Regions from separate parts of the Homo sapiens genome. Here region 2 is linked to region 1. Evidence: fine-mapped QTL for protein levels in blood plasma. A gene starts in region 1. The other region holds a variant in brackets. All regions are shown on one strand. Distances are from middle to middle.

Region 1 (14,756 bases):
GCCAACCAGAGACCTTTGCTTTGATATCATCAACTGCAGAGAATGCTGTTGATGGGAATGCTGGAAGCAGAAACTTTGTCATCGGAAAAACTTTTCTTGTATGCATGAGACTCAACATCAGGATCCACAGCTTAAAGATGGGAATTCAGGTATGAAAGAAAACAGGCAAGGAGGCACTGAGGGAGAAAGACACAGACTTTATCGCTCTGTGGCTCATTGTTACTGGAATATTCTAAAACTCTTGTTCACATGCTATTATGACTTATAAAGCAGCAACAGCTGAGGCGCACCAGGACACAGCTTCCATTTCTTTAACGTCTGTTCCCTTAACATCGCTGAAATGATTTACTGTTGAAGAGATGCCTTGCGGTGTGGCCAGCTGTGAGGAGAAAGCAGCTGGCAGTGTTAGGACATTAGTCCACCTTCAGCGCAGGGTCTCTGGCCGGGTCTGACTCAGAAACCTTGGTACTCGCCCCTTGGCCACAGTGCCCAGACCCATGTAACCCACTGGCTCCTGCATTAACCCAGAAATACCTCGCTTCTATCTGTGCACTTAGCTGGGAACTTACCCACTGTAATCACCTAAATAAAGTGTTTATAAACATGATTGTGGCACCTGTGCTCCTTGTAGAGGAATAGCTGCACCTGGTCCGAGTCCTAAAAATGCCATTCCTTGCTGCTCCCCATACCTGTCCCTTAGAAGCCCCGAAACTGTCTCCCCCTTTTCTCACCAGCCCCTCTCTAGGTACTCTACCCTTTTGGTACCCAGCATTTCCGCATACCCCAGTGAACAGAAGAAAACCGCTCCCCTTGTGAAAAGTGCTTTTTAGTATAGGCGATGAGGAGGAAACTGGCTTTTACACAATTACCAAAATTCAGGATGTGGCTTTGGAGTTCCCTAAATAGATGGTCTTTCTAAAGTGATGTGCAGAGCCGACCCCGTCTGTGGTAGACTAGATGGCTGCTGGCATGGACCCTGGGATAGATGAGTGGATAGGTGAGGGACATCCCCAGACACATGGCTCTGTTCCTGTAGATCCTTTTTTCCTCATGAATGTATTTCCATTCTTATCGTAGAACCCCTAGGAAACAATATAATACGGGTGGAAGAGGACTTTTGCTTATGTTTACAATAGGAAAATCCAAGTCCCTTTCCCGAATTACAGGTCCCACGATGATCTGGTCCTTTCTAGTTTTCTGACTTCATGTCACACGACTCTCCAGCTCTCTCTTCTCCAAGCAAGGTACTCCACCAAAGTATAGCTGTTGACATCGGAGAGACTTGTGCCCATGAGACTTTCAACATCAGGGTGTGGCTTGAAGGCCAGAGTTAGCTATGAATGAAAACAGGCAAGGAAGCCCTGAGGGAGAAATGGACCTGATAAAGTTTGTTTCGGTTTCTCATCAGCAAACTGACTTCTTTCCAAAGGTCTTCTGCAGGTACTTTCAGCTCTGCCGGGTCTACTTCCTCACCCGCGGCAGGCGCCTCTCATCTCAGGTTGAAATCCGCCTTCCCCACTCGCGGCAGGCGCCTCTCATCTCAGGTTGAAATCCGCCTTCCCAGAGGCCTGCCCTGCTGATCTGACTAAGCAGGCTCTGGCCTCCCCACTCCACCTTTCTCCCAGTTACTCTTCCTTCCAGTAGTTTGTTTTCTACACATCGCTTTAGGCTTTATGAACTTGTTTATGGGGTTGTTTGTATGGCTTTCTCAATAAAACGTCAACTCCCTGGGTGGCAGGGACTTTGGGCCACTGTTCTATCCGCTGGGATTCCAAGCGTCCCTACCCAGATCTGCACGCAATAAATGCTTGCTGAACGAATGCAGTTTGACAAAACCCAGCTTCGGAGGAGAGCAAGCCAACCTAGAGTATCGCTTGGAAGATATAAGGTGGTTTATTCAATACCTAACATGAACACTCACCTCACTTTTCCCCTCTTCCTTTACATACAATTTCATCCATCCAACAAATACTGAATATTTTTTCTGTACCAGGCAGCGAAGAGGGGCGGCACTCTGCACTGTACCTTTCATTTCTAACATGTTGAGATACTAAACTGAGCTTTCAGACATTTTTTTTAAAGGGCTCTACAACTTCTTTTCTGAAACAGAGTGTCTTTTACGTTTGTCTTCCTCCAGTTGCCAAATGAATCTAATTTTAGGAAGTGCAGGGAAGTGTTTTAAGTTCCACCGTCAAAATTCTGTTTCTGGGCCGGTGCAGTGGCTCACGCCAGTAATCCCAACATTTTGGGAGACCGAGGCCAGCAGATCACTGGGGCTTAGGAGTTTGAGAACAGCCTGGCTAACACAGACCATCTTTACCAAAAACACAAAAATTAGCCAGGTGTGGTGGCTGCACCTGTAGTTCCAGCTACTCGGGAGGCTGAAGCAGGAAACTGGCTTGAGCCCAGAAGACGGAGGTTGCAGTGAGCCAAAATCGCGCCACTGCACTCCATCCAGCCTGGACAACAGAGCAAAACCCTGTCTCAAAAAATAAAAAATCTGTTTCTAAAAATCGGGTGGGCTTTTTACCAGGGCTGCTTTATGGCCCGGTTCCTCCAAGTCCACCCCACTCACCGAAAGAGTTAGCGGAGGATGGGGGCGGTTGGGGTGGGCTCGGTAGGTCACGGGCGGTGAAAACCGTGGGAACCCAGAAAGACGGCCAAAGCACGATGAGGACCGCTGCCGGCAGCCCGCCCCACCCTGGGCTCCTCCCCACACCCGCTCGGGCAGCCGGGAGCCACCTACAAACTCCAGGACTCGACCCCAGAGCGCTGGCCTGAGCCGCCCCTGCTCGCCCCCAGTCCCCGCCTCTCCCTCCCTCTAATGCCCCCGCCCTCGACACCGTCGCCCCCCCGCCCCTGCCTCTCGCTCCCCACGTCTCTCGGCACCCCCGCTCCCATCCGCCCCCCCGTCCCCGCCTCTCGCCCCCATCCGTCCCCATTTCCAGCCTCCCCCTGACCCCGACTCAAGCCCCCCGACTCCGCCTCTCGCCCCTCTCTGCCCCCGCCTCTCACTCCCCTCTCCTTCCCCGCCCGCCTCTCACGTGGAGGTTGGGCCGGACCCGCCCCGCCCCACAGAGCCCGGGTCCCGCCCCCACGTGGCTGGCAGCTTCCTGGCCCTATCATTTCTGCGCTGGCTTCAGCGGCTCCGCCCCGGCGCCGTGCCAGGGGGCCGGACACTCCAGTCGCGCGGCACAGGCCTGAGGCCGCTGAGGGCCACCCCGTCCCCTGCCCGCCCGCCGGCCTGCTGGGATTGGCCGAGCGCCGGCCTCCGCCCGAGCCCGCGCGTTATGTAACGCGCCCCGGGGGCCCCGCCCCCTCGCCCTGGCTTATATAACCCGGGCGCACCGGCTCGCGCCCCGCCCCAGGGCCAATGGAGGCCTGCGGAGTCGGCCCCGACGACCAATCGCACGGCCCGGGGGCGGGACCGGTCACGCGGCGGCAGGGGGCGCGGCGCCGGCTGCTGACCGGCACGCGGCGAGCCTCGAGACTGCGCGAGGGCGGCCCCGGGGGCGAGCGGCTGTGCGCGGGGCCAAGGGCGGGGGCAGCAGGTGAGTGCGCGGCCGGGCGGGAGTTCTGGGCGGCCGGGCGGGAGTTCTGGGCACTCGCGCGCGGCAGAGGAGCCCCGCGAGCCCTGCCCTCGGTACTGGGGGCCCCCGGAGCGTGGCGCTTCCGAGCCACCCGCCTCCCCGGGCCCCATCCCTCGGCGCGCGGGAAAGTTGGGGCAGGGGTGAGGACCGCGCGGTCGGGGCGCCCCAGCCAGCCGGGCCGCTGGCGTCGGACTGTCTGTTCCATTTGTCCCTTGTCACCCTTGTCTCCTCCCCCTAGGCCGGAGTCCTGAAAGTCGAGCGAGCTCCGGGTTTTGAAAATGTTGGAGGGAAAAGCTCCTCGGAGATGAGCGTGACCCCCTGGCTCGTGGTGGCCGCCTGTTCTCACTAACGCCATGGCGGGGACCGGAGTGAGAAACCGGTGTCTGTCACTGACTGCAAAGTGAGCGAGAAGCAGGCTGCGGGCCGTCCCAGCACGACGTGGAGCCCCGCGGAGACCTCGAGATGCCCCGCGGGGAAGCTCCTGGCCCCGGGAGACGGGGGGCTAAGGACGAGGCCCTGGGCGAAGAATCGGGGGAGCGGTGGAGCCCCGAGTTCCATCTGCAGAGGAAATTGGCGGACAGCAGCCACAGGTGACGCGCTGGCTTCAGGCCGAGGGCCCCATGCGTTCGTTGTCCTTCCCTGGAGCAGGGAAAGGGGGACCTAAATCTTTTTATTCTTTTGTTTTCAAGCCCAGGGGAAAGTGTAAAGGGGAGACTCGGGCAATGTAGGATGAAGTGATCCGTGACACTGAAGAAAATTACCGAAGAGTATCAGGAGGGAAAAGTGGTTACAAAAGTTAGCTGAGTTGGGGCTCAAGTGGATTAAGGGAAAGTAAGTGGAGAATGTTTGTCATTCACCAGTTGCTTTGCCTCGAGTTCCCCACCTAGAGGAAGAGGGGTCACCACCCTGTGGACTGATGCCGGTAGAGCACTTAGAAACTTACCTGGCTTGCAGTTTGTGTTCCCTAAGCCGCAAGATGCTGTTGTCTTCAGAGGATGAAGTTGTAATTTTTTTTTATCTTCCAGTGAACAGCAAGATCGAAACAGAGTTTCTGAAGAACTTATCATGGTTGTCCAAGAAATGAAAAAATACTTCCCCTCGGAGAGACGCAATAAACCAAGCACTCTAGATGCCCTCAACTATGCTCTCCGCTGTGTCCACAGCGTTCAAGGTAAACAAGCCGGAGAGAAATTTCATCCTACGAATGCACCAGGACTCATACAAGCAGCCAGAGGAGTGGTCAGTGGGGTCTCAGTCAGACAAATAATTTGAGCTTTTTCTGGTGCTTTGTGGAAGATGAGCAAATCTACACCGATTCCATTCGTGTCTTAATTGTTCACATGTGAAAGACCAGGAAAACTTTATCTGTATAATAGTGTATAATACCTATGCAATGTTTTGCTCATGTGTTGCAAGAGAGTAGAGTTTAGCATAAGCACATTTTGAAGGCTGACCTTTTAAAGAAATATTGTCTTCTATGGAAGTTATGGGAAAAAAATGCATTCCACGAAATAGTTACCTTTACATGCCGTACACATACTTTCAAAATGCAGTAATGAGGCTGGGCGCGGTGCCTCACGCCTGTAATCCCAGCACTTTGGGAGGCCGAGGCGGGCAGATCACGAGGTCAGGAGATCGAGACCATCCTGGCTAATACGGTGAAACCCCGTCTCTACTAAAAATACAAAAAATTAGCCGGGTGTGGTGGCGGGCGCCTGTAGTCCAGCTATTCGGGAGGCTGAGACAGGAGAACGGCGTGAACCCGGGAGGCGGAGCTTGCAGTGAGCCGAGATCACGCCACTGCACTCCCGCCTGGGTGACAGAGCGAGACTCTGTCTCTAAAAAATAATAATGATAAAAATGCAGTAATGATATATCAGGAATTTACCAAACTAAAAATGAACCATTGTAAACACTTTTTCTCTCTGACATTTCCAGGGATTTCATTAAAGCCATATTCTCTTTAGCACAAACCTCAGTGCTTCATATATGATATGTTCCTGAATGACAGAGTACTGTTTCTGCTCCCCCCGCAAAAAAATTGTGTATGCATCTGAAATTTTTAGTTAGTACCTTAAATGTATCTTGCTTCCTGTGATCCAGAACATGCAGAATTCATAAAATCAAATCTTAAGTTTGCACAACTATCAGTATTTTAGGTAAAAGCAGAAAATGATCTGTTTTTGAGAAAAATGCACTGAGGTGTTCTCATCCGAAAAAAATAATCCAGCTTGATAGTGATGAAATGGTTTCCTAAAGATACTGTTGTCACTGGACTACCTGTTTATCTCCCTGTGTTTCTTAGCAAACAGTGAGTTTTTCCAGATTCTCAGTCAGAATGGAGCACCTCAGGCAGATGTGAGCATGTACAGTCTTGAGGAGCTGGCCACTATCGCTTCAGAACACACTTCCAAAAACACAGTAAGAATTCATGCATTTTGCCATATCAACCTGGGTGACTTTTCCTAAGGGCCTGCTCTAGATGTAGGCTTTTAAGAAGGATAACAACGTTTCAGCAACCACAATTTGAGAGAAGCAAAGGAGGAACTGCTAAAGAGGCATGGTGTAGCTTCTCCGCCCTTGCCAGAGAAAACATCTAAAAGCAGAAGCAGCCCGTTCTGTGTGCTGTGCAGCTCAGTGACTTTGGTTATGAGGTGCTTCTAGCTCCTTAGCATTCCCAAGCTCTCTTGAATTAAGAGAAAACAAAAATTACACTGCAGAGTAATTTCCTGCACCTTATTCTAATCTCCGAATTGTTAATTTCTATTTATATCATTCTTAGTTCCAATACCTACTACTTCAAGTTGTAACAACTGGATGTTATAGAACAGGTGAGTTGAGATGCTGTCATTTTTCCTAAAATTTTGGAAGAGACCTTTAGTATATCTTTTTTAATCTCTCTTCTTGTTTGACAGAGTAATCTTCATGTTTGGTTGATACGGTGGAGATTACTTATTTTAAGTAACATAATTGTTACTTAAAGATTTTGTAATAGTGGAACGTGCGCAATCCCTAGTATTATAACAGTGCTTATTTTATGGACTGGTGTGTACATAGTACTGTAGGAGGTGCTATGGAGATTTTTAAAAATAGCTTAAGAAAATATTTGTCTTTTAAGATATTTAAAATAAAGCTAGAGAGGAAAGTATGCCAATGCTAGCAAACACAAACTGCTGATTATAAATAAGTTTCATTTATGTGTAATGGAAAAAATTAGAGCAGTGATGCTTATGTAATGAGGTTTGTCAAGGACAGCTTCTTGAAGAAGGTGAATCTTCAGTGTGTCTTAAAGCATAGAATCTGCGTTGATGACGAGAACACCGTCCACCCAGGTGTATGGCACAGTTTGCAGAGAAGTTATGTGCCATACGTATTTTAGTCTGCATAGAATAAGCTAGTATATTTTTTGGCATAGAAATTGAACCTTCAGTAGGTGAAGTGCAGGTCTTAGGAGAAGATTTAAGAAGCATGTTGGAGAAAATTATTTGAGGAGTTTTGTTGCATTTGTAGGTTGTGCCTGTGTATTTTAAGATACTGGTCATGTTAGAGATCCAGAAGAAATTTACCTTTCAGGGAATATTGCTAGTGAGTATCTCAATATTTGCATTTATTTTAAATGTTTTTCATAGGATACCTTTGTGGCAGTATTTTCATTTCTGTCTGGAAGGTTAGTGCACATTTCTGAACAGGCTGCTTTGATCCTGAATCGTAAGAAAGATGTCCTGGCGTCTTCTCACTTTGTTGACCTGCTTGCACCTCAAGACATGAGGGTATTCTACGCGCACACTGCCAGAGCTCAGCTTCCTTTCTGGAACAACTGGACCCAAAGAGGTAACAGGACCAATGTTCAGATGTCTATCTTTCCTCATCAAGATCAGTTTCATTCTTACAGGAATAGTACAGAAATTAACATATTATTTAGAACATGCACACTATCTGGTTTTTCTTATTCCTGTTATAGAAAGTCACGTGATGAAAACAGCATTTTAAAAGCTTCTGATAACATACTCAATACGTTTGTTTCCATTTTGTCACATCTGTTTCACAGATGATATGTCATAAATATTATTTCATTACCAGCGTATTGTATAGTGGTTTAGTTGCTATGAAGGCTCTGTTTCCTTTAAGTTAAAATTAAATGTTTTTCCTCCTTCATGATTTCCTTGTATGAGAAATTTTACTTTGGAGATAAAATTTGGATCATTAGGCTGGGCAAGGTGGCTCACGCCTGTAATCCCAGCACTTTGGGAGGTTGAGGCAGGTGGATCACCTGAGGTCAGGAGTTCCAGACCAGCCTGGCCAACATGGTAAAACCCCATCTGTACTAAAAGTACAAAAATTAGTCAGGCATGGTAGTGCATGCCTGTAATCCCAGCTACTCAGGAGGTTGAGGCACGAGAAGCACTTGAACCCGGGAGACAGAGGTTGCAGTGAGCCAAGATCACACCATTGCACTCCAGCCTGGGCGACAAGCGTGAAACTGTTTCTGGGGAAAAAAAAAAAAAAAAATTCAGATCATTAGCTCTCTTACAGTTTTTCTTGCCCCTGAAACTTATGAGTCTTATTACTTTGTTTTCCTTCTGGAATGCTTTTCTTTCATAATTCAAAGATGCCTATTGCAGTTTTCTTTGTGACATTCAGTCCTGTGTGATCTTAATTTATTTCTTTTTAGTCATCCTTCATTATTTTATATTCTTTGTGAAGTGTCTCTTAAAGAGCTTTAAAATATATATATATATATATCAGCGTTCTCTTTGATTCCAAGCCCTTCTCTCTAATTAAAAAAAAAATTCATTGTAGTAAAAAACACATACAGTTTACTATCTGATATAGTTTGGCTGTGTCCCCACCCAAATCTCATGTTGAATTGTAACTCCCACAATTCCCATGTGTCGTGGGAGGAACCCAGTGGGAGATAATTGCATCATGAGGGCGTCTTTCCCATGCTGTTCTCGTGATAGTGGATAAGTCTCATGAGATCTGATTGCTTTAAAAATGGGAGTTTCTCTGCACAAGCTCTCTCTCTTTGCCTGCTGCCGTCCATGTAAGATGTAACTTGCCCCTCCTTGCCTTCTGCCGTGATTGTGAGGCTTCCTCAGCCACGTGGAACTGTAAGTCCGTTAAACCTCTTTCTTTTGTAAATTGCCCAATCTTGGGTCTGTCTTTATCAGCAGCATGCAAACGGACCTAATACACCATCTTAATCATTTTTAGGCATTCACTCCATTGCTGTGAAGGATGTTTACATTGTTGTGAAACAGATCTCCATAACTTTTTCATCTTTATATCTGAAATTCTATCTACTATTTCTAATTTTTTACCCAGTAGTTAATTTAATGAAGGGTAGCTTTGCGTGTTTCTTCTTCCAATTATAGATTGCCCCATCTTTTAAAAATATTTTTACATAAGCTCTAGAAAACATGCATGTCATCCCTGCTTGCTTCTAGCTCATCTCTTTTCCCATCTTTCAAAAATACTGATTTTATTTCTCATCCCCTTTCCTAAATACACATTTTCAACCTTTGTCTGTATTTGTTTCTCTGCTTTTGTTAGCTGTTCATTCCGTAAACATTTATTTAATAATCACGTGGGTCAAGAACTAGTCCGGATACAGATACAGCTGTGAACAGGACATACACAATATTGTCTGCCAGGTCTTTCCCATTTTTTCCCCAGGTATTTTTCCTTCAGCACTGCCTGTGGCTTTTCAGCCTTTTCATTTTTGCTGATTACTGATTACTGCGATATTTCCCTTCTGTATTAGTCCATTCTTACGCTGCTATAAAGAACTATCTGAGACTGGGTAATTAATAAAGGAAAGAAGTTTAATTGACTCACAGTTCCACATGACTGGGGAGGCCTCAGGAAACTTACAATCATGGCAGAAGGGGAAGCAAACATGTCTTTCTACACATGATGGCAGGAAGGAGAAGAATGGGAGCCGAGTGAAGGAGGAAGCCCTTTATAAAGCCATCAGATCTCTTGAGAACTTACTATCATGAGAACAGCATGGGGGAAACTGCCCCCATGATTCAATTACCTCCCTCCGGGTTCCTCCCACCACACATGGGGATTATGGGAACTATAATTCAAGATGAGATTTGGGTGGGGATACAGCCAAACCATATCATTCTGCTCTTAAGCCCTCCCAAATCTCACGTCCTCACATTTCAAAATGCAATCATGCTTTTCCAACAGTCCCCCAAAGTCTTAGCTCATTCCAGCATTAGACCAAAAGTCCAAGTCCAAAGTCTCATATGTGACAAAGCAAGTCCCTTTCACCTATGAGCCTGTAAAATCCAAAGCAAGTTAGTTATCTCCTAGGTACAATAGACGTACAAGCATTGGGTAAATACACCCATTTCAAATGGGAGAAATTGGCCAAAACAAAGGGGCTACAGGCCCCTTGCAAGTCTGAAATCCACTGAAGCAATAATTAAATATTAAAGCTCCAAAATAATCTCCTTTGACTCCATGTCTCACATCCAGGTCATGCTGGTGCAAGAGGTGGGCTCCTACAGCCTTGGGCAGCTCTGCCCTTGTGGCTTTGCAGGGTACAGCCTCCCTTATGGCTGGTTTCATGGGCTGGCATTGAGTGTCTGTGGCTTTTCTGGGCTCACAGTGCAAGCTTTTGGTGGATCTACCATTCTTAGGTCTGGAGGATGGTGGCCCTCTTCTCACAGCTCCACTAGGCAGTGCCCCAGTGAAGACTGTGTGGGCTCCGAACCCAAATTTCCCTTACACATCTCTCTTAGCAGAGGTTCTCTATGAGGGCTCCGCCCCTGTAGCAAACTTCTGCCTGGACATCCAGGCATTTCCGTACATCCTCTGAAATCTAGGCAGAGGTTTCCAAACCTCAGTTCTTGTCTTCTGCACACCTGCAGGACCAACACCATATGGAAGCTGCCAAGGAATAGGGCTTGCACCCTCTGAAGCTATGGCCTGAGCTGTACCTTGGTCCCTTTTAGCCATGGCTGGAGGTGAAGCAGCTGGAATGGAGGGCATCATGTCCCAAGGCTGCACAGAGCAGTGGGGGCCTGGACAGGCCCAGAAAACCATTTTTTCTCTCGTAGGCCTCAGCCTGTGATGGGAGGGGTTGCTGTGAAGTCTCTGACATGCCCTGAAGACATTTTCCCCATTGTCTTGGTGATTAACATTTGGCTTCTTGTTACTTCTGCAAATTTCTGTAGCAGGCTTGAATTTCTCCCCAGAAAATGGGTTTTTCTTTTCCATTGCATCTTCAGGCTACAAATTTTCCAAGTTGTTATGCTCTGCTTCCTCTTTAATGCTTTGCTGTTTAGAAATTTCTTCCGTCAGATACCTAAATCATCTCTCTCAAGTTCAAAGTTCCACAGATCTCTAGGCCAGGAGCAAAAGTTGCCAGTCTCTTTGCATAGCAGAAGTGTCCTTTACTCCAGTCCCAACAAGTTCCTCATCTCTCTCTGAGACCACCTCAGCCTGCACTTCATTGTCCATATCACTATCAGCATTTTGGTCAAAGCCATTCAACAAGTCTCTAGGAAGTTCCAGACTTTCCCACATTTTCTTGTCTTCTTCTAAGCCCTCCAAACTGTTCCAGTGTCTGCCTGTTACCCAGTTCCAAAGTCACTTCCACATTTTTGGGTATCTATGGCAGCACCCCACTCTTTGCAGTACAAGTTTACTGTATTAGTCCATTCTCATGCTGCTAATAAAGACATACCCAAGACTGGGTAATTTCTAAAGGAAAGAGTTTTAATTGACTCAGTTCAGCATGGCTGGGGAGGCCTCAGGAAACTTAACAATCATGGCAGACGGGGACATGTCCTTCACGTGGCAACAGCAAGGAGAAGCGCCAAGCAAAAGGGGGAAAAGCCTCTTATAAAACCATGAGCTCTCATGAGAACTCACTATCACGAGAACGGGATGACGGCAACCACCCCCATGATTCAGTTACCTCCCACCAGGTCCCTCCCTTGACATGTGGGGATTATGGGAACTACAATTCAAGATGAGATTTGGGTGGGGACACAGCCAAACCATATCACCTTTTATGTAAAATCTTAATATGCCCTGAAATAATTCTTTTGGATCTCAAAATTCACTTATGCCATAAGGCACGATATAATTCTAGTTTACTCTTTATATTGTACTTTTGCCTTATGAATCTCAAGGATTGATACTGAGAGCAGTTGGTTAATGCCACCCCCTTTATAGGCTATGCCTGCGTTACCCCCTTCGATTCCTTACTTTGAGCACATAGAACATCAAGAGGACTTAGGAAGCAATCCACTCAGCTGTTGTCAACCTCTGGTCCTGTATTAGAATATGTTTCTATTTAACATGTCTTGTACAAACCTCTTAGAAGGATCTGACCATTACTTCTTCAGAGTACGCTTTTAGAAACAAGCATCACATATTTACAGCCTAGGAATGGAAATGCATTGTGGGTGCACGTCTGCTGTCTTAGATCACGTAGTCTAGCTTTCAGTGGTCCAGGACTTCTAGTGAGTGCAGTTGGAGTTCATGTGTCTGGTGTGATGAATAAATGGTATAAGCAAACTGACCTCACAGTAGAGGCCGTTTTCTGTAGAAGATTATACCAATCTTCAGTGCTTTATTAATGCTTTCTGACTCTTCTGTGATCGTCTCTTAGAAGTATCAAGACCTGGGCTGCTTATTCAATATTTTGGTTGTTTTGGATTTTCACTGTTTATGCTACCTTCAGTGTATATTTTTTGAACATCTCACAGTTTTCCATGGTTCCTATAACTGAAGACTTCTTGTTTCAGTGAACAAATGCCCAAAAGATATTCAGGAAGCTCTAATCAGAGGAAATACATATAGTCAACAAACACTGGGCAGAAATTTCAGTCCCCTCATCTCCTAAGGCAAATTTAGACATTTCTGAATTATCACCTCATAAATCAATAAAATGGGTGCAGAAATCAATGGAATTGCTAGCAAATCATTGGCATGAGGGTTGTGAGAAAACATTAATAAAACTCTGAAGATTGGTACAGTTTTCTGGAGGTTTATCCATACACAATAAAGTCATAAAACGATTCTATCATTTAACCTAGGAACACAACTTTTTGAAATTTATCCAAAGAAAGAGCTTAAAGAAAAAAAGAAAATTATATATCGTATAGCTAAGAAGCTGAAAATAGTCTGAATTCCCAACTTTTTAGAAAGGTCCAGACTATTACAATGGGATGGAATATTACCACCAGAATAATTGTGTCCAAGGATCATTACATTGACCTTTGAGATGATGAACATGGGCAGTTTGGGAACTATGAAAAGTAGTAAGGGGAAGAGATAAAGCCGATTCTCACTGTTATACCTGAGGTTCACGGTTCCAGTACCAAAACCAATACTAGTATTTCCCAATTCTAGTATTGTGACTGGATCTCAAAATGAAGGAAGGGGGTTCTATTTTAATCAAGGAGACCTCTCTCTCTTTTAAAAAATAGTTTGTTGTTTGATAATGGTGCAACATTGTTTCACTGAGAAAGACCTGGATAAGAGGGAGTGACTGACCAGGCATCTTTCTTTCTAGCAGCTGCACGGTATGAATGTGCTCCGGTGAAACCTTTTTTCTGCAGGATCCGGTAAGTATAGTGGCTCGTGGAAGCCAGCAACAGTGGATTATGTTCTGAGTTTATTTTGCAGTTGGTTTGATTCTTGTGTATTCAGCTCACTTCTGTTGCGAGATACAAAAAATAAGACTTGGTTATTGCCACAAGGAGTTCGTATTTTGATTGAGAAGAGACATACTCATGAGAAAACTAGATAATAATGCAATAGGAGGCTGGGCACAGTGGCTCACACCTGTAATCCTAGCACTTTGAGAGGCAGAGGCGGAGGCGGGCGGATCACAAGGTCAAGGGGTCGAGAACATCCTGGCCAACATGGTGAAACGGCGTTTCTACTAAAAATACAAAAATTAATTAGACGTGGTAGTGCACGCCTGTAGTCCCAGCTACTCGGGAGGCTGAGGCAGGAGAATAGCTTGAACCTGGGAGGTGGAGGTTGCAGTGAGCTGAGATGGCGCCATTGCACTCCAGCCTGGCAACAGAGCGAGACTCTGTCTCAAAAAAAATAAAAATAAATAATAATGCGATAGGAAAAAAGTCTAGAAAAATAATTCTTAACTCTAGGAGTGTATAAGAATCACTAGATGTGAAGTACACTTTAAAATGACCATTGTTTTGGGCTCTTTTTTGTTTAGCTTTTTGTTTTTCAGTCACATTTAAAATTAATTTTTGAAATTTTTAATAGCTTTAAAGAAAGCAAGAGATTTATATTTGTGAGAAGGATTTAAAAGATCTAGAGACAGTGAACCAGAAGAAAACAGATGAAAATTTTAACAGTAGTTGATTGCTGGTAGGAATTACTACTGAATTTTTTATCTTCTAAATTTGCTGCAATATATTATTAGTGTTCCTTTTATGTTATATACATAATATATAATTATATATTCTGTTATGTTATATATTATGTATATAAGATGATATAATAATATGTTCTTTTGTAATAAGAACAAATATTTTGAAATGACATTGTGATTGCCAGTTTTAGTATTGAAGTTACTAAATGCTCAAGATGTTTAGAGAGAAGAAAAACCCTCATGATGAAATAGTCTAATATTCCAGTACTCCATGGAACTGGGGGACTTGAGCTCATAGGCTCTGGATGCTTGGGGGGGACGGCCTGAGAAAGGGCACAGCGGTGGGAGGGGCTGTCTTGTTCCAGTGGGTCATTCACAAGTGAGTTGTATGAAGATCTTAGAACAGTTCCTGCCTCCTAATAAGTGCTGTATGTGTTTCTGATGTTAATTAATATTTTGGGGTGCTTTCTCTGAGCCAGGCACTTTGTCAGTGCTGGGATTCAAACAGTTCTTGCCTCACGTACCTTAAATTCTGTGAGGAGGAGACCAATAATAAACACATATTCAAATGCCTGTGTTGGCTGGTGATAAGTTGTGTGTAGACAGTAAAGCAAGGAGCGGGAGTTCTGGGAAGCGGGAGATTGCCGTTGTATTCAGGGTGATCCAGGAACTCTTAGGAAGTCTAATTGGAAACAGCGACCAGAAGGAGGGCAGGGGGTGAGCCACACCGGTATCTGAGGGGTGGCAAGTGTCTGAGAAAGTGTGTTCCAGGCAGAGGGAGCAGCAGGCGCAGA
Region 2 (15,238 bases), 23 kb before region 1:
AAGAATTTAGTTTTTATAAGTTCTTCTTAATAATGACCTTAACCCTAGATTTAAAAGCTTTAAAAGGGCCGGCCATGGTGGCTCATGCCTGTAATCCCAACACTTTGGGAGGCCGAGGCAGCCGGATCACTTGAGGTCAGGAGTTCGAGACCAGCCTGGCCAACGTGGTCAAACCGTGTCTCTACTAAAAATACAAAAATTAGCTGGCCATGGTGGCGTGTGCAGGAGAATCTGTTGAACCCGGGAGGCAGAGGTTGCAGTGAGCCAAGATTGTGCCACTGCACTCCAGCCTGGGCGACAGAGCAAGACTCTGTCTCAAAAGAAAAAAAAGAGAAAAGCCTAAAAAGCCTTAAAATTTTAAAGATTTAAAGGCTCATTTATTTAAAACTATAAATAATTGCTAAAGGAAAAATTTGTTTTTTGGGGGAAAAAAGCAGCTATACTCTTACGTAAACTTAACTAATTAATCCTCTCTAGACTTAAGGAATTGTTCTCAATTAAAATATTTCAGGTCCCTTGTGATAGAGCTGGCTCGGAGACGTTTTTTTTGAAATGTAAGAAAAAAAGAGGACAAAAATCTCCATTTCTCCCTCTATTCCCTCTCACCCTCTGCATATATATAGATAATCTTTCTTTCCATTTTAAAAAACCTCCAAGAGAATAGATGCATGCCCTAGTGTTCAGTTCAACTACAACTTGTAGTATCATGCATGTTATATGCAATTAATATCACCTGCTGCAAGGACAACATTTTTACGGGAGGTGGTTGCTTATGCGTTTTTGAAACTTGTTAGTTTCTGGTATGTTAATGACCGTTTTTAAGAGCACATTTTCAGAAGGTGCTTTTCAATGCAAACCAGAATCCCAACCTCAATTTCTTTAATGCCTGCTGCATTCTATTGTGAACTCCTAAAACTCCTACTCATGCATGGAAAGTTGGAATCTCATGACACCCCTTATGCCTCACGACATCTATGCAAGTTTGAGAGATAGGGGCTGAGAAGGTTCCTTCTATCCTGGTGATATTTAGCTAACTCTGTGAACCAAGGAATAGCGTATATATGGCTTTGTATGATTGCCAATAAGATCTTCTCTCCCTCGTTCTTCCATCGGAGAAGTCACAGTGGCACTCCCTCTAACAATCCCCAAGTTGAAATTAGTCTTGGGAGGCAGAGCATTCTCTGAGGAAGATTTATAGTCGTGGAAATTATGTTAAGATAAAATACTTATTTTTGGGCCGGGCGCGGTGGCTTACGCCTGTAATCCCAGCACTTTGGGAGGCCGAGGCGGGCGGATCACGAGGTCAGGAGATCGAGACCATCCTGGCTAACATGGTGAAACCCCGTCTCTACTGAAAATACAAAAAATTAGCCGGTTGCGGTGGCGGGCGCCTGTAGTCCCAGCTACTCGGGAGGCTGAGGCAGGAGAATGGTGTGAATCCGGGAGGCGGAGCTTGCAGTGAGCCGAGATAGCGCCACTGCAGTCCGGCCTGGGCAAAAGAGCGAGACTCTGTCTCAAAAAAAAAAAAAAAAAAAAAGATAATATACTTATTTTGTTAATTTGTAAAGTATTCCATATTTAAAACATGGTTTATACATTGAAAAATAATATTTTCCCAGCTACTGGAGGCTGAGGTGGGAGGATTGCTTGAGCCCAGAAGGTCGAGGCTACAGTGTGTCATGATAGTGCCACTGTACTCCAGCCTGCACAACAGAGTGAGACCCTGTCCCAGAAAAGAAAAGAAAAGAAAAGAAAAATAATATCTGGAAACTTACAGAATTAAATTTTATGGGACAGTATTTGTTAAACACTAATACTGACCCAAACTCCTACGTCAGTGGAGCAGGGGGAGATCTAAAAAGGCAGAATTAAGACACGACAGACAAATTCCAGCAGCAGAGCAATCAGAAAATACCACTTGTGTCTTGAAATGTTTAGTCTTTGCTTGGGGAAGGCTAAGAAAAAGCACCAAATATTTTTCACTGAGTACAGCTCACTTTTATCCCCCTTTCCTTCAGGCCTACCTCTTAATTTATCCAGTAACTTAAAGTGAAATTAACAAACTCTCGATACTGTCATCAGGGTTTTTGGTTGTTTTGTTTTTTGTTTTTCTGTTTTTTGTCTTGGACACAATAGCTGTGTTTAGGAGAGAACTTTTGTTCTACACAAAGAGATTATTTAAATTAACAAAAGTGATTTCTCAGCAAATGACTGAAGGATTTTTAAGGTTTAAGAAACTTTTAAAGTACATATGCTGAAAAGATACTTTCATTTGGATTTTGAGTATATCTAACAGGATATTATTCAGTTGCATAGAGAAAAACCAAGATACCTCATATGTTAGCAGGTAGTTCAGTTACATAACAGATTTATCCTCAAGGTATTGAGACTTGCTTGACCTAAAAAAATAAAAACTAAAATGCCTGTTTTTCTAGACAGAAAATGTCTTTCCACTTCTCTAAGACATTTATTTTTCGTGGATAGTAGAAAGTGTTCTCATAGATGAGTGACACCGCTCTTTGAAAAGCAATTTCTAGACAAATTCCTCCTTTCCCGATACGAGACACTATTTCTGTGAGAAGGCTTTATAAACTGTAACAATCACTATGGGTGTTATTAAAAGCAGTGGGAATGCTAGTATTTAATTAACCTATTTCTTATAAACTGCTGGCCTAGTCACCTGTGTTCAGTAAAGGCAGGTGCAGTTATTTTACTGGAACAAAACCTTAATTGGAGGAAGAAGAAATAACACTTTTTAGTCACATATTTTCAAACAACATATTTTCTTTTTATTTGAGAACCGGGTTTCCAAACACTTTGCCAGAAGCTGGTAAGTAGGGGTCTCAACAGAGCAGCTCTGCTGTGTGCTTCTGAGAACAGCCCCGGGTCATAGCTGCACTGGGTCATTACCAAGTTCTGAAAATTACGCTTACACTTTTGGCTGTTTTATGTACACTTTTATCCAAGGGACAGTTCTCTAACAATGCGGGGAAGTGTACTGAGAAGTAAACAGTGCTCTAGGGTCAACAAATGTGTTCTCACACTTCCGTAGCTCAATTTGGCATGAGGCATAGTTTCTAAGTGGCCCGATGTGTTCATGAGAAGTAAGACGTGAATGTGGGATGTGTCATCATGGATGTATTTTAAATCTTCAAAGTAATTTTGTCTCACTTGCCTCTTTTAGGAAATGAATATTTTTGGAACACAGTGGTGTGTGTTAAATTGCAGACAACATGCTCTGTGTCATTCTTATTGGGCCTCTCTGTCTTTTTTGTTTTGCAATCCAAATGAGATTTCTGGAAAATGGCAAGATCTCTCTTTTCCTAAATTCCCCACAAGCTATTGCAGCTCTCAAAGCAACAGGTAATAATCAGAAAGCCGCATCCGCTGCCCTGTCTATTTTTGACGTCCAGCATTGCGAGAATATTCCCGCTGAACTCCACTGACTCATGAGACATTTCTCTGGCTGAGCATCACTGAGTAGATGTAATGAAGCAGCTTTGCCTTACGCTTTACCCATGGAGCCATTGTTTGCTACAAGTTTCTGAAGCAGGCCTACTTCATTGATTCATAAATGATCATTGGACGTCTGATGGAAGTAAACCCTGTGGGCTTTTGCTGGCTTTCAGTGCTGTTGCTTACGACATCACTTCAGTACATTACGATGCAACTTTTTGGGAAGGGGGAATTGAGACTACAATGGTATCCCAGAGTGGTGATTATTCTCAGCCTAGAATGCTTGGGGAAATACTGGGATTGTCTTTAATGTTAATAGCTGAATGGTAACAGGTCAGTCTTGCTATTCTAATTACTGTGAGTCTGAGCCAATAAGAGTTCTACTTTGCAAGTTACTGATAGGAGTCAGAAATGTGGCCGCACAGCTCTCCTGAGGGCAGCACTGGCGCTGTGGGAACTGTAGCTTCTGTCCTGCATTGCCTCTATGAGCTCAGGGAAGACTGCTTTGCCTGTCTTCTGTGTAAGTGAATTTAGAAGTAAGTGCAGTTATAATTTTTTTTTTTTAGATAGCCTGGACATTTTTAGATTCAGTTCTTTCTTAGCCCTGAATGAGTCGAACAGTTGTAATTCCTTAAGAGAACTGAGCACTCAGTAACCCTTAGCTAAGTGTGTGTAACATAACAAAAGTTTATCATGCACCTGTGTTCCAAGTTCTATAGATATGGTGACCACAGGTCCTGGATTTTCAAGTCTAATTCCAATTTCAAAAATTCTTGTCTATATTTACCAAGTTTGTATACTGAAAAATTTGCTTACAACATAGGTAATGTTAATGAAACCAGTTCAGTCCATTGATTTTGGTTTCAGTCTACAAAATTGAATTTTTTTCCTTCCAATGAATTTTTCAGTTGTTTTTATATAATATGAACACAGCATTTGTAAGACAGATTAGTAACAGACAGATAGAAAACGATCTAATTCACTTTTTTTTTTTAAGACTAACAAGCAGCTCATGCCTGTAATCCCAGCACTTTTGGGGGCTGAGGCAGGAGAATTGCTTGAGGCCAGGAGTTCAAGACCAGCTTGGGCAATATATTTAGATCCCCTGTCTAGACAAAAAAATTTTAAAATTAGCCAGGTATGGTGATGTGTACCTGTAGTCTAGCTACTCAGGAGGCTAAGGCTAAGGATTGCTTGAGCCCAGAAATTCCAGGCCACAGTGAGCTATGACTGTTCCACTGCACTCCAGTCTGGTCAACCCTCTCTCTAAATAAGTGGAGAAAATAAAAGCTAACAAGCAGGAATAATTATTATTACAAAAGCAGCACATACTAATTGTAGTGAATTCTGGAAATACAAATAACCAAGGAGAATCACCCAGAGATAATAATGGTTAAACTTCTATTTTGTATCCTTCTCATTGGTAAAGATTTATTTTTAACATCTGCCTGAATAATCATTCATGTCCTTAACTAATAACAAGGTGATCATAAATTTAGCCATTTGAAACACTCTGATTTGAAACATCTATTTCTTAAAATTTGTTTTAAAATTCTAGTATATGTTATTCTAAATCACTTTGGTGATATAATTGTTTTCTGTTTCTTTGGAGGCAATATAACATTCAAACATTATTTTATCCAGTTGACATTTGATTTAAAACAAAACAAAAATTAAGCCCCACTGTCTCATCCTAATAATCTACTCTCAAGTAACATAAAACTTCATTTATGATTTCACTAGGGCAGATAGTAAGCCTCTCAATTTCATGTTAACTTTCAGAGGTAAGTTAACATCTATATGGTCCATAAATTGCAAATTGGAGAATAAAGCTAAAAATCTCCCTTGATTCTTACACACATTCTTTTCACACATTTTAGGATTCTAAATAATTGTGTTGTAAAATCAATAAGTACATTTTATGTGAGGGTCTTCCCCCACCAAGAATGTTTTTTATTAATAAAATCAATATAGTGTCTTATAAAAGATGACACCTTAGAATTGAGAAAATGTAATTGTTGTTAATTTCATCTCATACCATGGAAATTTTCCAAATGCATGTTTCTTATAAAGTCTTTTAGAAAAAACAATAAAATATGATTTTTAAAATACTTCTGTGTTATCCTGGGAGATATTTTTAGAGACAGTGAAATGTTGAAACTATAGGTTTGGAAGTCAGACAAACCTGGACTCAATTCCCTGTTCTGCCATTTATTAACTGTGTGAATTGGGGCAGATTGCTTAATTCCTATAAATCTCAGATTCTGCATTTACAAATTGGAGCTAATGGCAGTGTTGTGAGGACTACATAAAGTAACAGATATTAAGTAACCTGTATAGCTATTGGAATTTAATACTTTTTCTCTCTCATTTTCCCCTTTTTTTTCTAATTCCTCCTTGAACGACTTTCTGTAAAAAATGTTTGTGCCATTTAAGTCATTTTGATGTCATGTATAATGCTAGCATACTATGATAACTTTATCATGAAGCTAAGAACTAAATTCTCCACTTTAACTCAGGAGTTGTGGAAGCCTGGAAAATATATCTGAAAATTGCATTGTTCTCATTTTTCCTGCGTAGACATTGTACGTGGACATGCACCTCTCCTTAACCTCGTGGTCTGTGAGGCCATCACTAATTTCATAGAGTATTTACTTGACAACTTTAAAACCTTATGAAAACTTAACTTTTTAATTAGTTCTGAAAGAAACTGAAAAAACTGCAAAAACAAATGTGACCATTTTAACTAAAAGAAAAATGTTTAGGGTATACCTCCCCTGACCAGCTGATTATAGATTCTTTGGTATGAAACCACATAAAACATTTCTGGCTTATAATTCACTCTCCTTTTTATTTCATCTCAATGATGAACTTAATATTTCTAAAGCATTCCTGTTCATTCGAGAAAAATTGTGAATGTATAACATCGTCGTGTTTATGCTATCAGATTTTGAGTTCAGAATTCCTCAAATTATAGACATCTCATCAGTGATGGAGTCACTGTCGCATATTTGTGAATGAGGTCTGTGCTAGTGCAGAAAGAAAATGTAGCATTTGAAGTGGCATGCACACGCTGCAGAAATTCAGCAGATAGGTCTGCACAAGTACAGATATTGCATGTCCAGAAGCGAAGTTGGCATCAGTGCATGCCTTGCATTTCCAGCCAAAGGGATGTTAGTATAGATATTGCATGTTTAAAAATTGAACAGACTATAGCATGTTTCAATTTTTAAAAAGCCATTTATTTATCAAGTATGCATGTCCAAAATTAGGGACCTATAGTGATGTACAATTCTATACTGTAATATGACCCAAATTAATCCATGGTATATTTAATTATAAAATTTAAAACTAAATGATATTTGGATCTACTCATGAACATAGCAATGTATTCTAACTGTGCCTGTTAACAAAAAAAGATTCAACAGTTTTAGAGATACACTGTTTGTCACTGTCATTTATAAAAATCACACTAGGACCAAGCTAGGGCTTGGTATATGTAGTAAGTAAATCAGACAAGTAAGCAAGTTTTCAAAGATTATAATTCTTTTTAGTATTACTGATAACATCATAAAGCTTTTCTTCTAAAAGAGAGCATCTTCTCTATGAAGAGATTGTATCAACTTTGCAGAATACTCAGAAATGATTCTGCTTGGAAGTGGTAAATATAAATGTTTTCTTAAATTGCTATTATACCATATGTGCCATTCCAGACTCTCAACCTATACAATATAGCAATAACTGATTACTGGTTTTTTCACACTATTTTCTTTCTGCCTGAGTATTATCAGGTTTTACTTGAGGCTGGGCCTGGTAGGCTCATGCCTGTAATTCAAGCACTTTGGGAGGCTGAGGTGGGCAGATCACTTGAGCTCAGGAGTTCAAGACCAGCCTGGCCAACATGGCGAAACATCATCTCTACTAAAAATACAAAAATTAGCTAGGCGTGGTGGTGCGTGCCTGTAATCCCAGCTACTCGGGAGGCTGAGGCAGGAGAATCACTTGAACCCAGGAGGCAGAAGTTGCAGTGAGCCGAGATCGCACCACTGCACTCCAGCCTGGGCAACAGAGTTAGACTCCGTCTCAAAAAAAAAAAAAAGTTTTACTTTACTGGTATAACTTAAGATAATAGGAGAGCCTCTTAGAGAATCAGAAAAATATATTTGAGATTATAGCCCTCTGTATAGCACCACGACAAATCCACCTTTTCCTGATCATGCTGTTGCAGTAGAGTATGGTGTCCTAAGAAACTGTTGCTCCTATTTGGCTAAATCAGCCTCTCACATCCATTTTTGGGAAACAAATGTTATTATATGGTATGCAGTACCACAAACTGTGACTTACACCACATGCATTGCCTTACATTTGATCATTCTGCTATTAAGGCAGGTTCGTAATTGTCAGTGTAGAGAAATACTCTTACAGCAGACAGCAGCTTCCCCAGCACCCCATCTACATCAGGTGGCCATATCCAAAAAAACTGAGACTGATTTTTATATTAAAAATTACAGATTGGCAGTGATAATTAATAAGTAATTTGCTGATGTGAACTTTCCATGACTCAGTCTATAACAATGTTATTTAAATTTGTTTACTACAGTATGTTTGATGAATAGAACGAAGTACCTTATCAGTATCGCACCCTATGGCTGTCCATCTGGGATCACTGGGAGGAGGAACCTAAATGTCTTTTTAAGTTATAATGTGGAATGGGAGGAAAGTAAGGAATTATAAAAATCAAAGTCTCCACAAAACCTGTGTGAAGGAGTAGAGTTGTACAGATGTATGATTAGGTTCAAGAAAGCTAACAATCTTGAGTCTATGAACAAAGCAGTAGTAGCTTAATCCCTAGATATATTAAAAGCTAAATAGGCCGGGCGCGGTGGCTCACGCCTGTAATCCCAGCACTTTGGGAGGCTGGGTGGGCGGATCACGAGGTCAGGAGATCGAAACCATCCTGGCTAACATGGTGAAACCCTGTCTCTACTAAAAAATACAGAAAATTAGCCGGGTGTGGTGGCGGGCGCCTGTAGTCCCAGCTACTCGGGAGGCTAAGGCAGGAGAATTGCGTGAACCCGGGAGGCGGAGGTTGCAGTGAGCCGAGATGGTGCCACTGCACTCCAGCCTGGGTAACACAGCGAGATTCTGTCTCAAAAAAAAAAAAAAAAAAACTAAATAAATGCATGTACAGTTTCCCTAATTTACATCATACAGAGTGATAGGACATTAATGGTGGTCCACGAGACTAAAAAGAAAGTTATTTGAATAGTTAAATTTTTATTAAGATAAACATGTGATTGTCACACTTGATTTAATACATTAGACTTTGATTTTGCTCTATTCTTAGAGCGCTCGATGTAGAGCAAAGCTTTAGAATG[A/AT]TTTTTTTTTCACCTTAAGTAGGGTCACGTCTTTCCTTTGAATATTTTCCCCAACAATTTCACAGGAGTTTCTTTTGCCGTCAATCCTCAAAACGGTTTTAGTCTTGGCTTTTCAGTTCAGAGGGAGTGGTAATACCCCTTTCCTTTACTTGGTCACAATTCACTATAGAGTTATCGCCTGCTGTTTTGTTTTGTTTCTCTTCCAGAGTGAAAGAATTGAAAAAGGCCAAGGAACTTGAAGACATACAGCAGCATCCCTTAGCAATGTGACATTGCTTTTCAGACTGTTTTCATTTCTGTTTTTAGCAGAGACATGCAACAACAACACACACGCACACACGCACACACACACACGTACACACACATACAAAATCCCTCTGCAGTTTTGGGGAGATCAGCTGCAGGATTTTAACAGGAATGTTTTGGTCATTGCATTTGCACTTTCATGGACAACTTTTAATTTGATCAGCAAGACATCTTGGAACTCAATCTTCTGTTGGATCACGGGAAATCAAGACACCCAGGAGGAATTGAAAGAGGCTTCCTCTTCTCAGGAAGAAGCCATTTCCTTCTCATATAGGGCTGTATTCAAACATCGTGTGGAACTGTACAAATATTTATACCAAAAATATAGATAAGAAAAGGTGGGGCTATACTAGCAACAAAAAAAGAATGCTGTTCCTGCACCTGCCGGTTATTTCCAAGAAGCTGAATCTTTGGGACTGATTCTCAGTGGAGGGCTTAGATCATACAAAAATCTTTATTGGGTCCGTGTGTTCTCATTTCCTTCACTGTTTATTTTTGTTTGTTTGTTTGTTTGTTTTAATCTCTACAGCACATTTAATGCAACTTTTGAAATCTGCAGGTTTTTAATGTCTTGTGGAAATTTGCAGAGGGGCAGGTGTGTGGTAAACGGGTAATGCATGGGAAATAATGAGAAGCAGCTCACAGAGTTTAAACTATTTTCTTGTCCCCACCACCTTCCAAGAACCTGCGAGGGTAGTAATCATCTTGTCCCCTTTTTCATGTTCAGCACTTTAATTTTTTTGCCTTACTTTCATGTGCAATGAGAATTACTTAAGAATTGGTAACGCATGTAGCCTTTTTTAGTAACCTTGGAAGCTGTAGTAATTCTAAGGAATCATGAACCTTGCCTGGACATTTGCCACCTAAACGATCAGTGTGGTGCTGCGTTCTGGCCAGTAAATTCCATGTTTTTGGCTATATCTCATCCAAACTGAGCAGTTTCTGTGTATATATAGAAGGTAGAAATGAAAAGTGAGAAAATATTTGAAAGGGATTATATTAATTGCTAAATATTTTATTCACAAAGGTCAATAACATGGCAAGATAAAATTATTTGTATAGTTTTGTCTGAATGAGCGAGAAAAATGTGGATGTACTGTTTGTATATATTGTATATATTAAAACAGAGATATGTGCATGAAATCAAGAAAAAAGAAATGAACAAAAGCAAAGCATTAGTGGCTATGGTCTGTAAAATGAAACAAAAAAACTTTATTTCACTATAAGAGTACTTTATTTTAAATGTTCTTTAGGAGAACATTTTGCTAAAGCATGACTAAACTGCAAAAAAAAAAAAAGAGCTACTGTATTTAGACTTAGGAAAAAAGGCAGAGTAACATTACTTAAAAAAAAAAGGATATGTTTACATTTAATTTTGGCTACCAGGAGTTTAGTTTATTTTATTTAAAATTTTTTTGCCAATGGTGCCAAGTAATGTGAATGCTAATACTGCTTAAGAAAATTAAGTTACTTTTGCAAAACAGATAATCATAAGATGAATCAGTATGTAGCTTAACACCATCCACTCACTCCAACAAAGAACACTTAGAATGATAAAAAAAAAAAAAAAAAACCTGACAAAAGAAATAGTATGAAAAGTAGAAAAATGTCACGTTTCCATATCTCCTGCTGGAAATCAGAAAATATAATAAAATTGCACAAAAAAAAAAATGAAAAAGATGCAGACTGGTCTTTTAGAGACGGCATGGTATATTACTATTTCCACATAATGAGGAGCCAAAGAAATCTGATGTTTTTAACAATTAAACTGCTAATGTTAAATTGAGAGAATAAAGTTCGTATTTGCTGATGCCAGTTTAAAATTCCCAGGTTACGTCTGAGGATCAGTTGGTGTAAAGCTGAGATGTTTTTTCTTGGTTCTGGCTGCCAACTGTGAGTTAAAACTCAAGGCTTGTTGTGAAGCCTAAAAATATTCACAAATAAGCTTTTAAACTGGTGTCTTTGGAAGGAAGGTAGATACAAAAAGATTGTGGTAAAAACTGGGGTCAGTGCTCTTGGTGCCTTTTCTATAATTGTACTTGTTTTTTAATTACTTCCTTTCACTGCCAACCTCGAATTACTGTACAGTATATGTCTTTCTGCTTGTGATCAGCTTTGACAACAGTGACAGCCCCACAACTAGTAGCCACCTGTACATTTGTAAACTGACCTGACTCCATTTTGTTTTTAAATGTGTGGGTTATGTTGCAGCTGTTGCAGTCCCCCAGATACCTATTATTTTACACAATTTGACCTATAGGAGGACACTGAGTAATTTACAAACACAACTGCATTCATAAATGGGAATAGAACGTGAAAGCCAGCTCTTTCAGAATATCCTCTATTAATACTGAATTTAGATATCTTTATTCCATTTATTATGGTACAAATAACTGATGTTTTAACCAGAGTAATGACCTCAGTGGATTTGCTTTAACCCTCACATTTTTTTTTTAATGTTTCACATGTTACATTATTAGCTGAATACGTTAGAAAATGACAGATGGTAGAGACTTCCATAGAATTAAGAGGGTTCTCATGGAGGGGATAGGAAGTAGGTTTAAAGCCTACCAGTGTAACCTACCAGTACAACTGTGAATCCTAGGCGAGGCAAAAATGCACTTCCACTGAAACGAAGCATTTCTGACCGCTTTTTCTTGGTTATGAATCTTAATTTCGAATATAAGATGATAGGTAAGCGCAGCTTTCTTGGATAATCTGAATTCCCAAGTGCCAGGAGTAGGATTTCATTATAAAATTAATAGCTAATCTTATTCTATCTCCTGAAGATTTAATTGCTATTGTTACCCATTCGAAATCAGCTGTACTGTGTGAACGAAATAAAGACAATAATACGAACCCCTCTCTGGCTGCACGGTCGCTTATGGCAGTTCCACACAGTAGTTGGCGCCCAATGGGGGGTCCCTGAGACTTGCATGTAAAACTAGTCTAGATGTCTTCTTTTTTTGTAAGTTTTATTTTTGTAATTGTGCATGTAAAGCATCATTGAATCAATGGATCTGTTGAAGAACTCAGCTGCTGGAAACCATGCAAAATGTTTTGAATTGCCCTTAAAATATGGAAAATGTTTTCTGAATGCTTTATATTCTTTCTGCTGTAAATTAAAAATGAAGAAAATTTCCCCATACTACGTGTGTGTTTTGCTTTAATATGACCGGGTAGTGAAATCTAAGGTGATGGGCACATGTTTCAAAACATATGTAATAATGTCAAGGATTTCCTTCTGATCCAGATGTAATGTTTTGACATTGAATGTTACATTGTTTCAGCTAGGTCCATGAAAGAAAAAATGTCTTCCAGCCACCATTCAGAGAGCTTTTCCCCTATCTTTCCAGGCACCTCTCAACATGTCAATCATTTGTGTAAGGCAGTGCAATTATTTGAAAGATAAAGACATTAATTTAATTCACCTTTTCAGTTACAATCCTCTAAAGTCTTCTAAAAGGCATTTTCCAGCAGATTACGAACGTCGTCCTTTCTGAGTATTGTGTCATCGCCGCTCCCTTCCCGTTCACTGCAGAGCCTCTCCTTATCTCCCTAGTGCTCCCTCTTCCATCTAATCCATCTGGCCACTACTGCCAGAGAAATTTTGCATCATGGATCTCCCACGTCCGTAAGTCAATGGTTTCCAGGGCCCACTACAATTAAATGACATTTTTCTTGTTTGTTTATCCTCTTTATTCAGTCTTCTTTTCACTTGTACCCAACCTGCACCCTCTAGGTGGTCTGTGCACACTGCGTCCATTTTCACTGCTGTCTTTGTTCATGGTGTTTGCCCAACCCTTACTTGGAAAGTTCTTTTCCACTAGTACCCAGCTCAAATCCCACCGCCTTTGTGACACTCGTTTATTCGATATATACTAACGTTTCCCTTTTCAAAGTATTCTATTTAGAGTTGGAAAAAACAGCATAGTATTTAAGTACTGTATTTTTCACTTCTCATCTAAGAGACCCACCAATGACCTATTAGTGTTTTATTTTTTGGTGTAGGTAACTATGTTGGTAGGAATATTTCAGTAACAAATATATACAAGGTAACTCACTGCGTTCAGATTTGTGCTTCCCTCCCTTCGACCAAAACCTGAGGACCTATTCTGTGCTAGGGCCTGAAAATACAGAAATAAAGGAACTACAGCCTTGATGCCAAGGCTCTCGTAAGCAGATTATAATATGATCTGCAGTGACAAATATTTGTGTCACCGATGAAAACATGAGCGGGAACCTCACCCAACACCATGTGACAAATACCCGAAATGGACTTCCTATTTCAACTACTTTAGAGAAACATGGTGCCCTCAGGATCACTAGGTTACTCTGGAACACTCAGCAGAAGCCAGTCATCTGTCTCTAATACTGTTAGAAATGGTCCCGAGCCCAGAATAACATGAATTGCCCCCACCCTCACTTATCCACGCAGTCCCTCGCCAGTGGCTAATGCACCACGTTTACAGACCACGTCCCCAAGCGCCAGCGCGGACGGCGGTGCGGACAGGGAGCTGTATTGACCTGCGTTCTGCGTTTCAGAGCCCGGACCGCCCTGGGACCCCTGTGGCCCTCAAGTTCCCAAGTGACCTCGTCCGGGGAGGGGACGTCTCGCTCTGACCCCGCCCTGGACGCACCCACCCACGACGCCCCCGCCCACTTCCGGCGCGCCCCCTCTTCGCCCCGCCCACTCCCCCGGCTCCGCCTAGTGACGTCTTTGCCCCGCGCCGCGCCGTCCCACCCATCTCCCTGGCCTCCGGTCCCAACTTCGCTTCTCTGCTGACCCTCTCTCGTCGCCGCTGCCGCCGCCGCAGCTGCCAAAATGTGAGTGACGCTACGCGACGCGGGCGGCTTCGGGCCCCGCAGGCGGCAGCTCGCGCTGGGACCGCCATACTGCCCAGTTGCCGCCGGCCGCCACTCGGACGCAGGCCGGGGCTGCGCGGGGATCCCGAGGCCTGGGGGTGGGCGGTGGCCCTTGGGTCGCGGGCTGCAGACGGGCCGGGCGGGTCCCGCGGCCATCGGGCGGACGCGGAAGGGGCAAGGGCGGGGCGGCGAGACGCTTCCCGGAGGAAGTGAGCTGCCCGCCCGCAGCCCGCTCCTCGCCCCTTCCCTTTCTAGTCCCCGACGTCCCTGAGAGGAATGGGGACGACAGCCCTGGTTCGGGAGCGCCCGCTCTCGGCCCGGTGCTGCGCTGGGCCCCAGAAGTTGCGAAAGAAAGGACCTCGGCCCTGTCCTGAGCCCCTGTGGGCCGAAGAGCTCCTTGCCTAGCTAGGGGCATCTGCACTGGAAAGATCACTTAACCGTGGGCCTTCGCTCTCTTAAGCGAAAGCACGTTGCAAACCCCTGCTTCCAGTGGTAAGACTCAGAGAATGCTAATGGTTAAGAATCACAAGGACTCCCTCTTCCACCTCCATTCTGCTCATTGCTCACCGTCGGAGGAAGCCCCGGGTTTCTTCCAGGAGCTGGGGACCCCCCTCGAATGTTCCTGCTGAGGCTGCTGTGCCAATAGATCACAGTGGTTAAGATCTAGAGCCAAGGTACACAGGACCTGATCTAAAAACAAGCTGTCCTGCAGCCAGCTGTGTTGACTCTCTAAACCTCACTTTACTCATTTGTAAAATAGGAGTAATATTCCCCTCAGAGAGTTATGAGGGTTAAAGGAGGAAAAGCATGGAAAGAGTCTAGCGCCACGGCATGGTCCTTACTTATCTACCAGATACTAAACTCCGTGAGGACGGTGATGAGATCTGTTGTAGCCCTGGTCATTGACACATGACAGATGTAAAGTGACTGTTCAAACAGCCCATCAGACTGTTGTATACCAAGGCACATGCTAGGTGCTATCTAGGATACAGAGAAGAGAGTAAGAAGACCCAGGAACCTGTGATCTATTCGAGGAGGCGGGACTTTATACCTGAAAAACCAAAGTGATACTTTCCAAGTAATGGAGCCAATAATGACTTCAGAGTCAGAGTGGTTAAGAAAGATCTGCATGGGGAGAAATAAAGCCTTTGATGAAGATTTTAAAAGATGAGTACCTTCCTGGGCCGGGCGCGGTGGCTCATGCCTGTAATCCCAGCACTTTGGGAGGCCGA

Which allele goes with the higher level. Positions count from the first base shown, and alleles are read on the strand shown. Strength reflects both the effect of a copy and how common the allele is.
As copies of AT replace A in region 2, the plasma level of the protein whose gene starts at base 3,466 in region 1 goes up (strong association).

Evidence for each region. PIP is the posterior inclusion probability: the model's chance that the variant is causal. The UK Biobank Pharma Proteomics Project read protein levels with antibody pairs (Olink). The fine-mapping took linkage between variants from a reference panel, not from the people measured, so its PIPs are less certain.
Region 2: its variant is fine-mapped to the plasma level of the PER3 protein (UK Biobank, PIP above 0.99).

The regions. Positions count from the first base shown.
Region 1 is chr1:7,780,826-7,795,581 of GRCh38, forward strand. PER3 (period circadian regulator 3) reads left to right here and starts at 3,466. Exons shown (of 22, transcript NM_001377275.1): 1 at 3,466-3,551; 2 at 3,829-4,180; 3 at 4,616-4,761; 4 at 5,896-6,011; 5 at 7,220-7,421; 6 at 13,132-13,183. The coding sequence starts at 4,053. It overlaps VAMP3 (vesicle associated membrane protein 3), which reads left to right. Exons shown (of 5, transcript NM_004781.4): 5 at 1-607. RefSeq lists a silencer at 2,932-3,541.
Region 2 is chr1:7,757,419-7,772,656 of GRCh38, forward strand. It overlaps CAMTA1 (calmodulin binding transcription activator 1), which reads left to right. Exons shown (of 23, transcript NM_015215.4): 23 at 9,041-12,288. The coding sequence ends at 9,073. It overlaps VAMP3 (vesicle associated membrane protein 3), which reads left to right and starts at 13,878. Exons shown (of 5, transcript NM_004781.4): 1 at 13,878-13,967. The coding sequence starts at 13,966. RefSeq lists enhancers at 13,082-13,778, 13,522-13,571 and silencers at 13,805-14,047, 14,012-14,241. The variant A/AT (reference allele first, on the strand shown) is at 8,835.